Linked DNA regions of Homo sapiens. The protein of the gene in region 3 purifies or fractionates together with the protein of the main gene of each other region. This does not show direct contact. Each region holds a gene or a part of one and is shown on either strand. Other genes may lie near its edges. The genes, in order: RAB4A, TMEM192 and LAMP1.

Evidence for each region.
Region 1: the proteins of LAMP1 (region 3) and RAB4A purify together in Homo sapiens (affinity purification with mass spectrometry; 2 studies listed by BioGRID and IntAct, with this or other methods). This does not show direct contact.
Region 2: the proteins of LAMP1 (region 3) and TMEM192 purify together in Homo sapiens (affinity purification with mass spectrometry; 3 studies listed by BioGRID and IntAct, with this or other methods). This does not show direct contact.

Annotation. Positions count from the first base shown.
Region 1 is NC_000001.11:229,301,957-229,305,710, reverse strand, and holds part of RAB4A (ras-related protein Rab-4A), read right to left. Parts: intron 2,850-3,754; coding exon 2,734-2,849; 3' UTR 2,722-2,733; intron 1,906-2,721; 3' UTR 1-1,905. UniProt on the Homo sapiens protein: The small GTPases Rab are key regulators of intracellular membrane trafficking, from the formation of transport vesicles to their fusion with membranes.
Region 2 is NC_000004.12:165,071,126-165,074,879, forward strand, and holds part of TMEM192 (transmembrane protein 192), read right to left. Parts: 3' UTR 1-3,754.
Region 3 is NC_000013.11:113,321,238-113,324,325, forward strand, and holds the end of LAMP1 (lysosome-associated membrane glycoprotein 1 precursor), read left to right. Parts: intron 1-166; coding exon 167-233; intron 234-319; coding exon 320-490; intron 491-1,044; coding exon 1,045-1,184; 3' UTR 1,185-2,435; downstream 2,436-3,088. UniProt on the Homo sapiens protein: Lysosomal membrane glycoprotein which plays an important role in lysosome biogenesis, lysosomal pH regulation, autophagy and cholesterol homeostasis.

The DNA.
Region 1 (3,754 bases), on a different chromosome or scaffold from region 3:
ACAATCTCCAGTTTAAATGGTCTTTATAATCTTTTTCTAGGAAGACTGAATAATTACTTTCCTAGAAATCTAAATTAAGAGCTTCCTGAAAACTTAATGAGTTGCGGGAAATAGAAACATGACATTTATTACTAGCCTGAACAATACCCAATTATCTCTCCTCCTCATTCTCCCTAAAGGCAAAGCCTGATTAAGAACCACCATGGTTTGGTTCTCCAGCAACTTTTATTGGCCAAAGGATGCAGAAGGATATATGGTGTCTGTGGTTTAATTAACAGGATCGTTTATAAAACAACTTTACATTTATCTTATTTTTAAAATTCTTGCTTTTGAATAAGCTGATGTGTTAGAATAGACATGCTCCTATCCCATGCAAAAAGCTGTTCAAAAATGAGCAGCTTGCAAATCTATCATAAATGAGACATTGAATAAAATATTCTTACAGTGAGGTCTAAGAAGTAGTTCAGTCTGAGAATTTGCTTCAGATACTTTTTGAAATAAAATATTCAAGGCATAAAAAAAGCAAAACTCAAAATATCTAAAACAGATACATACTGATATTTTTATCCTAGTCATTTCCCAGAGTTTTTATGTGTCTCTGTGCTCTGCTGATTAAAATAAACAACAAAAGCAGTAGGCATCTTCTAACTAAAAGTTAATTTACTAGTCTTCAACTAAAAAGTCACAGTGGAAGAACATATATAAGGTGAAGAAAGCTTTTTAACCTTTCAGATTTAAATAATACTGCATTTCAACTTTAAAGAAAGGTTCCACCATATATTTTTTGCACTGACATTTTAAAATACAAGAACAAGTCTTTGTAATACAATATATACTTCAATATACCCAATATACCTTATATGAATTAAAAACATGTCAACTGGATAACTGTAGTAAGGCATTTAAGTATTCAGCAGAAGCCATAAAGAAATTTCTTAATGAGTGGTGTCCATTTAATATTAACTGGATTTAGTAGGTTTCCTTAAAATGAACAGGAAACAAAAGATGTGAAAAACAGGCAGTGATGCCATTATACTGAATTCCAGAAAAAGCACAGTACAATGTGTTTTCTAGCAGGGAGACCAGCAAACTGGAAGTGGATGAGCGGCCCCAGCTTACATGGTCTATTGTATTTGATCAACTGCTGAGAGAAGTATTAGTAGCCCAGTAGGTTTGGGTAAAGGTACCAGAATCCTTAGTGCTAGTCTCACAGCCAAAAACAGAGCAGGTACTCCAGATATACTTCCTGAACTGACCTGGATGAAGAGGCTTTAAAATCAACAGAGCTGGACAGTATAAAGTTCACGGAAAAACTCAATTTTTCATTTTATTTTGGTATATTAGTGAATGTCTACTGATCTAGTATTTCAAGTGTGGATCACGTAAACACCATGTAGAATGTAGTAAACGGAGTTAAATAAGAAAACACACTGGCTATCAATGCCAGAGTCTTTGAATATCAGGTCATAAATATAACCAATTGTGCAATATAACCAACATGATGAGAAAAGCACACCTCACAATTGACAATTTTAGTTCATATGATTAAAAAAAATAAAATCTGAAACTGCATTTAGTGCCACATTCTATCATATCATACATCAGATTCCATGCTGTGGAGCCGCACTGGGCTACAGGACATACAGTACATATAGCATGTTTTAAACCGAAAGTGAAAGGAAAAATATGAAACAGAAAATTTTTACATACACATCTAACGGTGTTGTCCATTTAATTCGATTTATATGATTTGCTGTGCCACTTTGACTGGCTTGCAGAACACCCCAAATTCTCTTTTCCCCATAAAGATCTACTTCCATACAGAGTAGAAAAAGATGGTGGTAAAAAAAACTTCAGATTCTTCAGGTTCCAACGATTGTGTCCCAAATGCCACTGTATGAACACCTAAAAAATATTAAGAACAATTTCAAAATCTGCATAACTATAAATGCAAAAGTAAATACAGCTTAAAGCCTAAAAGAGAATTCGTGAATATCTTGTCTTTTAACACTTGCCTGTGCCTACTACATGATGTCGACTATAAATAAAACGTCCACTGTGGTAAATGGGAAAAAAGAAGAAGCTTTAAAAAGTTAAAGGGAGACATTTGTCAATTTTATAAATAGGCCTCCTGTTTTAGCAAAAGGCACATTCATTTAGACCTCAATCAATCCAGGAAGGGCTCCTCACTGACATAAGGAATCAGGATATCTCACCCTTCCCATCAACCACCACCTGCCCTTCCTTTCTTTCTGAACAAGAGCATAAGAATTTCCTATAGAGTATAAATTCTTTCAGTTAGAACATCCAACTTTAACTTATGGGTTCTTCTCCTTCTCTTTTTTTTTTTTCTGAGACAGTTCTCACTTTATCGCCCAGGCTGGAGTGCAGTGGTATGATCTTGGCTTACTGCAACCTCCGCCTCCCAGGCTCAAGCAATTCTCCTAAGTTTCATGAGTAGCTGGGACTACAGGTGCACGCCACCACGCCTGGCTAATTTTTTGTATTTTGTAGAGATGATGTTTCACCATGATGCCTAGGCTGGTCTCGAACTCCTGAACTAAAGCAACTGGCCCACCTCAGCCTCCCAAAGTGCTGGAATTAGAGCCACTGCACCCGGCTGGGATCCCCTCTTTTTCATACTGCAGCTTCCCAAAGCTTTAACAGGCCTCTGCACTTGAGCTTGCCAGGAACTCAGGGCAGGGAGGTGTCCAAACCCACCTGTGTGCTCTCCTAACAACCACACTCCTGAGCGTTCGGGGCCTGTGCGCGCCGCGGTGACCTCAGCTGTCTCAAGGCAGCATCTCCGTACTGAATACCTGAGCCCATTCTTTCTGGGTCCAGCTCACCTAAGGACCAAGCAAGTCTTCTTTTAAAAAAGGCTTTTATGTTTCTTTGATTCCAAAAATAGATTAAAAAAAAAAAAAGCAAAGTACAGAACACTGTGTATATATCCCACCATTCTGAATAAAGGGAAAAAACTATATATATGTTTGCTTGCACCGGCACAAAACATCTCTAGCAGGATACATAAGGAACGGCTGATTCGGAGGAGTTCTAGATGGCTGAGGACAGGAGGGGGTGGTAACAGGGGGACTTTTCATTGCATACTCTTTTATACTTCTTGAATTTCAAATTATGTGAATACATTATTTATATAAAATAATTTAAAATTAAATTACAAAGATATAATTTTTCACTTATTAGATGGGCCAAAAGTCCAAGTATGATGATACTACATGCTGTGGACATGGCTTTAGTGAAATAAGCCCATCACTAGGAGAAAATGTGACAGCCTCTACACCAAGATCCCAAATGCTTATGTTCTCTGACCCAGCAATTCCACTTCTGGGCATTTGTCTGACACACAGACTCATGCACATGTAAAAAAAAAAAAAAAATATATATATATATATATATATATATATATATATATATATATATATATATATAATTATTTACTGTAACATTACTTATAATAGCAAAATACTGGCAACAACCCAAATGTCCAAAGTAGACTGGCTCATGAATTATGGTAACACATAGGTTGAGCGGTCCTTATCCAAATATAGGTTGAGCAGTCCTTATCCAAAATACTTGAAACCAGAAGTATTTTGGATTTTTTCAGATTTTGAAATATTTCCATTATACTTACCAGTTCAGCATCCCTAATCTGAAAATCTGAAATTTGAAGTGCTCCAATGAGCATTTCCTTTCAGTGGCAATGTTGGCAATTAAAAAGTTTCAGATTTTG
Region 2 (3,754 bases), on a different chromosome or scaffold from region 3:
CACATAACTACAATAAAGTTAAATTTATAAATTAGGCACAGAGAGTAACAACATTAATAACAAAATAGAATAATTATAGCAATATACTATAATAAAAGTTACGTGTGGTGGTGTGGTGCACATCTATAATCCCAGCTACTCAGGAGGCTGACTGAAGTGGGAGGATTTTTTTTTTTTGGGGGGGGGACGGATTCTCACTCTTGTCACCCAGGCTGGAGTACAGCTGTGCGATCTTGGCTCACTGCAACCTCCACCTCCCAGGTTCAAGTGATTCTCCTGCCTCAGCCTCCTGAATAGCTGGGATTACAGACACGTGCCACCACGCCTGGCTAATTTTTGTATTTTCAGTAGAGACAGGGTTTCATCGTGTTGGCCAGGCCGGTCTCCCAACTCCTGACCTCAAGTGATCCACCCACCTCAGCCTCCCAAAGTGCTGGGATTACAGGGGTTAGCCACCACACCTGGCCACAAGTGACATTTGAACAAAGACTTGAAAAAGATATATGGGAGTTGATCCTTCCAGGCAGAGGGAACAGCAACCGCAAAGGTCCTCAGGTAAGAATGTGCTTAGCAATCCAAAAGCCACAGTGTGACCGACGCAGGGTACACAAAGGAAGAGTAGGAGAGAGGAGGTGGGGTGGGGTGGGAAGTGGAGATTTTCTAGGTCCCTGAAGGCCACTGTCCAGGCTTTGGCTTTTACTGAATGAAAAAGGGAACCATCAGAGTAGTGTTTTAGAAGGATATTGTTGGCTGCTTTTTGTGTGTGTGCATGGGGCTGGGGGGTCAGGGTGGAGAGGTAGTGAGAAGCAGAAAGATCACTTAAAAGACTCTTATAGGCCAGGTGTGGTGGCTCATGCCTGTAATCCCAGTACTTTGGGAGGCCAAGGAGGGAGGATCATGAGGTCAGGAGTTCCAGACCAGCCTAGTCAGCATGGTGAAACCTCGTCTCTACTAAAAATAAAAAAAGCACACCTATAATCCCAGCTACTCAGGAGGCTGAGGAAGGAGAATTGCTTGAACCTGGGCAGCGGAGGTTGTAGTGAGCCGAGACTGCGCCACTGCACTCCAGCCTGTGCGACACGAGTGAGACTCCATCTCAAGAAAAAAGAAAGAAAGAAAAAGAAAAAGAAAAACACTATTATAATAGGGCCAGGCACAGTGACTCATGCCTGTAATTGCAGCACTTTGGGAGGCCAAGGCGGGTGGATGACCTGAGGTCCGGAGTTCAAGACCAGCCTGGCTAACATGGTGAAACCCCCTTTCTACTAAAAATATAAAAAAATTAGCTGGGTGTGGTGGTATGTGCCGGTAATCCCAGCTACTCAGGAGGCTGAAGCAAGAGAATCACTTGAACCTGGGAGGCGGAGGTTGCAGTGAGCCCAGATCGCGCCACTGCACTCCAGCCTGGGCAACAGAGCGAGACTCCCTCCCCCAAAAAAAAAAAACAAAACCAAAAAACCGAAAGACTATTATAATAGTCCAGGTGAAGATTATAGTGGCTGGGGAAGTAGCATTGGGGGTGCCAAGAATTGGTTGGACTCTGGGTATGTTTTAAAGGAAAAGCCAGCAGGATTTGCTGATTAACTGTCTATAGGGTTTGAGAGAAAGAGGAGCTGCCATTACAGGGGTGGAAGAGACTGTGGCAGATAGCTCAGCTGGGGACATGTTCTGTTTGAGGTGTTTTTTTATATACCCAAGTAGTGATCTAGAAGGGGCAGTTGGACACATAAGTCTGGAGTTCAGGGAGGAAGGCCTGGCTGAAGATTCACATTTGGAAATTATCAGCTCATAAATTCTATCAAAGTCATGAGATTGTGTGAGACCACCAAGAGAGTGAACGCTGATGGAGAAGCCAAGAGGCCCAGGGGTTGAGCCCTGGAGAATACCAACAAAAAGCAACTTGCAAAGCAGACAAAAGAAGAAGCTAGTGAAGTAGAAGAAAATGAGGAGAATGTAGTGTCCTGGAAGCCAAGCTGAAATAAAGAGTCAAGGAGGAAGTGATCAACTGTGGGGAAAAGAGAGAGATCAGATTGTTACTGTGTCTATGTAGAAAAAGAAGACATAAGAAACTCCATTTTGATCTGTACTAAGAAAAATTGTTTCTGCTTTGAGATGCTGTTAACCTATAACTTTAGCCCCAACCCTGTGCTCACAGAAACATGTGCTGTATTGGATCAGTTTAATGGATTTAGGGCTGTGCAGGATGTGCCTTGTTAACAATATGTTTGCAGGTGGTATGCTTGGTAAAAGTCATCGCCTTTCTCCATTCTCGATTAACCAGGGACACAATGCACTGCGGAAAGCCGCAGGGACCTCTGCCCAAGAAAGCCTGGGTATTGTCCAAGGTTTCCTCCCACTGAGACAGCCTGAGATACGGCCTCGTGGGAAAGGAAAGGCCTTACCATCCCCCAGCCCGACACCTGTAAAGGGTCTGTGCTGAGGAGGAGTAGTGAAAGAGGGAGGCCTCTTTGCAGTTGAGATAAGAGGAAGGCTTCTGTCTCCTGCTCGTCCCTGGGAATGGAATGTCTCGGTGTAAAGCTGACCATTCCCATTCGTTCTATTCTGAGATAGGAGAAAACTGCCCTGTGGCTGGAGGCGAGATATGCTGGCAGCAATACTGCTCTGTTACTCTTTGCTACACTGAAATGTTTGTGTAAAGAGAAACGTAAATCTAGCCTACATGCACATCCGGACACAGTACCTTTCCTTGAACTTATTCATGATACAGATTCCTTTGCTCACGTTTCCCTGCTGACCTTCTCCCCACCTGTTGCCCCGCTACACTCCCCTCGTCAAGATATTAAAAATAATGATCAATAAATACTAACAGAACTCAAGAGACCGGCGCCGGTGCAGGTCCTCGCATGCTGGGTGTGCTGGTCCCCTGGGCCCACTGTTCTTTCTTTATACTTTGTCTCTGTGTCTTATTTCTTTTCTCAGTCTCTCGTCCCACCTGACGAGAAATACCCACAGGTGTGGAGGGGCAGACCCCCCCTCAATCAACTGAGCCAAGTGTTGCTGATAAGTTAAAAGAGGAGACGTATGCATTCATCTCCAATTTAAGCAATGTGGAAGGAAGCTATTGGTGACCTTGCCAAGAACAGTTTCAGTAGAGTAGTAGAGTGAAAGGTGAGACTGGATAGAGAGGAAGGGAGAAGAATTAGAGATAGGCTTCCCTGGTTTGCGAATGAAACAATTTTCCTTAGGAAACCTAGAGAATGTTTTGAGATCTCAAATTTGTGATTGTCACATATTCAAAGTTTGATTCTTCAAGAACTCAAGAGTTTACCAGATGTGAGTTTTGTATTCAAGATTTATTTATTTATTTATTTATTTATTGAGACAGAGTCTCGCTCTGTCACCCAGGCTGGAGTGCAGTGGTGCGATCTCGGCTCACTGCAACCTCCACCTCCCGGGTTCAAGCAATTCTCCTGCCTCAGCCTCCTGAGTAGCTGGGATTACAGGTGCACTTCACTGCACCTGGCTATTTTGTATTTTTAGTAGAGACGGGGTTTCTCCATGTTGGTCAGGCTGGTCTCGAACTCCTGACCTCATGATCCGCCTGCCTCGGCCTCCCAAAGTGCTGGAATTACCGGTGTGAGCCACTGCGCCCAGCCTTAATTTTGTATTTTTAGTAGAAATGGGGTTTCTCCATGTTGGTCAGGCTGGTCTCGAACTCCTGACCTCAAGTGATCTGCCTGCCTTGGCCTCCCAAAGTGCTGGGATTACAGGCGGGAGCCACCACGCCCAACCA
Region 3 (3,088 bases):
ATAGACAAGATCTTTTGCAGTTTTGTTCTAATACTAGAAATGTAGGAAGTCAGGTTTATTACCCAATGACCATTCACGTTTGATGATAAATGTGTGAATCTACTGGGGTTAAAGATCATCTTTCTATGAATCTGCTCCGTGATTAAAGATCATTTTTCTTTTTAAGAATGCAAGTTCTAGCCGGTTTTTCCTACAAGGAATCCAGTTGAATACAATTCTTCCTGACGCCAGAGGTGAGAACCCACAATCTCTGCGAGCCCCGCCCCCGCCCGCGCGCCCAGGGTATTCTGGAGCCACTAGACCTCTGTGTGTGTTGCAGACCCTGCCTTTAAAGCTGCCAACGGCTCCCTGCGAGCGCTGCAGGCCACAGTCGGCAATTCCTACAAGTGCAACGCGGAGGAGCACGTCCGTGTCACGAAGGCGTTTTCAGTCAATATATTCAAAGTGTGGGTCCAGGCTTTCAAGGTGGAAGGTGGCCAGTTTGGCTCTGGTGAGTGTCACCGAGGGCAGCTGTCGCGGGGTGTGGAGGACGTGCTTCAGACTCCGCCTGTGGACGTTTAGTCGCTTCCGTGTGGGCTGGGGCGACGCCCCTGTTCCTCTGCAAGGAGCTGTTTCTTCTTGCCGGTCTGAGATTCTAGAGGTAACTCCCCCTGCTTTAGAGAGGCCCAGCGTGTCTCTCAGCTGGGAGCCCCTGGTACCATTTGAGAGTAAGGGAATCATTTTAAGAAACAGTGGTGGCGCTTCTCCCATGAACGTTGAATACAACACTGTCATCTGATGTGCACAGAGGCCCTGGACGCAGCACAGCTGTCCGGCCACAGCCCCTGATTCCAGACGGGGGAGAGACGTGTGTGGTTTCCTCGCCGTGCAGAGAGCACCAGTCTCTGCAGCGGCTTCCCCAAGTGACAATTCCAGCTAGAGCTGGAACCTTCCGCCAGGGTTCCTCTTTGCCTTTTGGCTGATGTGGGGGAGTGGTGGGGAGAGAGGCCTGTTTGCAGGCCCCTGTGTGAGCAGAGCCCTGACACCATCCGTCTGTCTTGGCAGTGGAGGAGTGTCTGCTGGACGAGAACAGCATGCTGATCCCCATCGCTGTGGGTGGTGCCCTGGCGGGGCTGGTCCTCATCGTCCTCATCGCCTACCTCGTCGGCAGGAAGAGGAGTCACGCAGGCTACCAGACTATCTAGCCTGGTGCACGCAGGCACAGCAGCTGCAGGGGCCTCTGTTCCTTTCTCTGGGCTTAGGGTCCTGTCGAAGGGGAGGCACACTTTCTGGCAAACGTTTCTCAAATCTGCTTCATCCAATGTGAAGTTCATCTTGCAGCATTTACTATGCACAACAGAGTAACTATCGAAATGACGGTGTTAATTTTGCTAACTGGGTTAAATATTTTGCTAACTGGTTAAACATTAATATTTACCAAAGTAGGATTTTGAGGGTGGGGGTGCTCTCTCTGAGGGGGTGGGGGTGCCGCTGTCTCTGAGGGGTGGGGGTGCCGCTGTCTCTGAGGGGTGGGGGTGCCGCTCTCTCTGAGGGGGTGGGGGTGCCGCTTTCTCTGAGGGGGTGGGGGTGCCGCTCTCTCTGAGGGGGTGGGGGTGCTGCTCTCTCCGAGGGGTGGAATGCCGCTGTCTCTGAGGGGTGGGGGTGCCGCTCTAAATTGGCTCCATATCATTTGAGTTTAGGGTTCTGGTGTTTGGTTTCTTCATTCTTTACTGCACTCAGATTTAAGCCTTACAAAGGGAAAGCCTCTGGCCGTCACACGTAGGACGCATGAAGGTCACTCGTGGTGAGGCTGACATGCTCACACATTACAACAGTAGAGAGGGAACATCCTAAGACAGAGGAACTCCAGAGATGAGTGTCTGGAGCGCTTCAGTTCAGCTTTAAAGGCCAGGACGGGCCACACGTGGCTGGCGGCCTCGTTCCAGTGGCGGCACGTCCTTGGGCGTCTCTAATGTCTGCAGCTCAAGGGCTGGCACTTTTTTAAATATAAAAATGGGTGTTATTTTTATTTTTATTTGTAAAGTGATTTTTGGTCTTCTGTTGACATTCGGGGTGATCCTGTTCTGCGCTGTGTACAATGTGAGATCGGTGCGTTCTCCTGATGTTTTGCCGTGGCTTGGGGATTGTACACGGGACCAGCTCACGTAATGCATTGCCTGTAACAATGTAATAAAAAGCCTCTTTCTTTTTGGGGTGGGCCTTGTCCTTCTGTCAGCTAAAATGGGAGCTCATGAGAGAAGGACGTCAGGGAAACGGGGTTGAGGGTGGTCTCGGTGCAGAGAGAAGGGTGTCAGGGAAACGGGGGGTGAGGGTGGTCTTGGTGCCAGACGTAGGGAATGGTGTTGGGAGTGGCCCGAGTGCCTGGCACAGTTGTCTGGTTCATTCATGTAACATGATAATTTTTAAATCATTAAAAAAATTACCTTTCATACAGATACCATGGAATACTATGCAGCCATAAAGAGGTATGAGATCTTGTCCCCTGCAGGGACACGGATAGAGCTGGAAGCCATTATTCTCAGCAAACTAACACAGGAGCAGAAAACCAGACACCACTTGTTCTCACTTGTAAGTGGGAGCTTCTGATGAGAACACATGGACACAAGGAGGGGAACATCACACACTGGGGCCCGTTGGGTCGGGGGCAGGGAGAGCATCAGGAAGAATAGCTAAGGGATGCTGGCTTCATACCTAGGTGACAGGATGGTCTGTGCAGCACATCACCACGGCACACGTTTACCTGTGCAACAGACCTGTACACCCTCCACCTGTACCCAGAAGTTAAAAGTTGAAGGGAGAAAATGATCTTTCTAAAGAGAAATCACCTACTACGTGCAGAAGCCTCACATAAACTGCACGCTCTGTCACAGAAAGGAATGGAATATTGACACTGCCGCTGTAAGACCTCAGTGACCACTCACTATGTTAATTTCCAGTCAGCTGAGAAACTGATCACAAACACAGGTGTTGGCATACTTTATTAGATACAAACCCACACTCACATTTTATATATTATTGATCTCTCAGGTAAAAATAAGTTTTCTTTAAAAAGTATGACTTCATAGCTAATCATCAAAAGCTGGTAGAA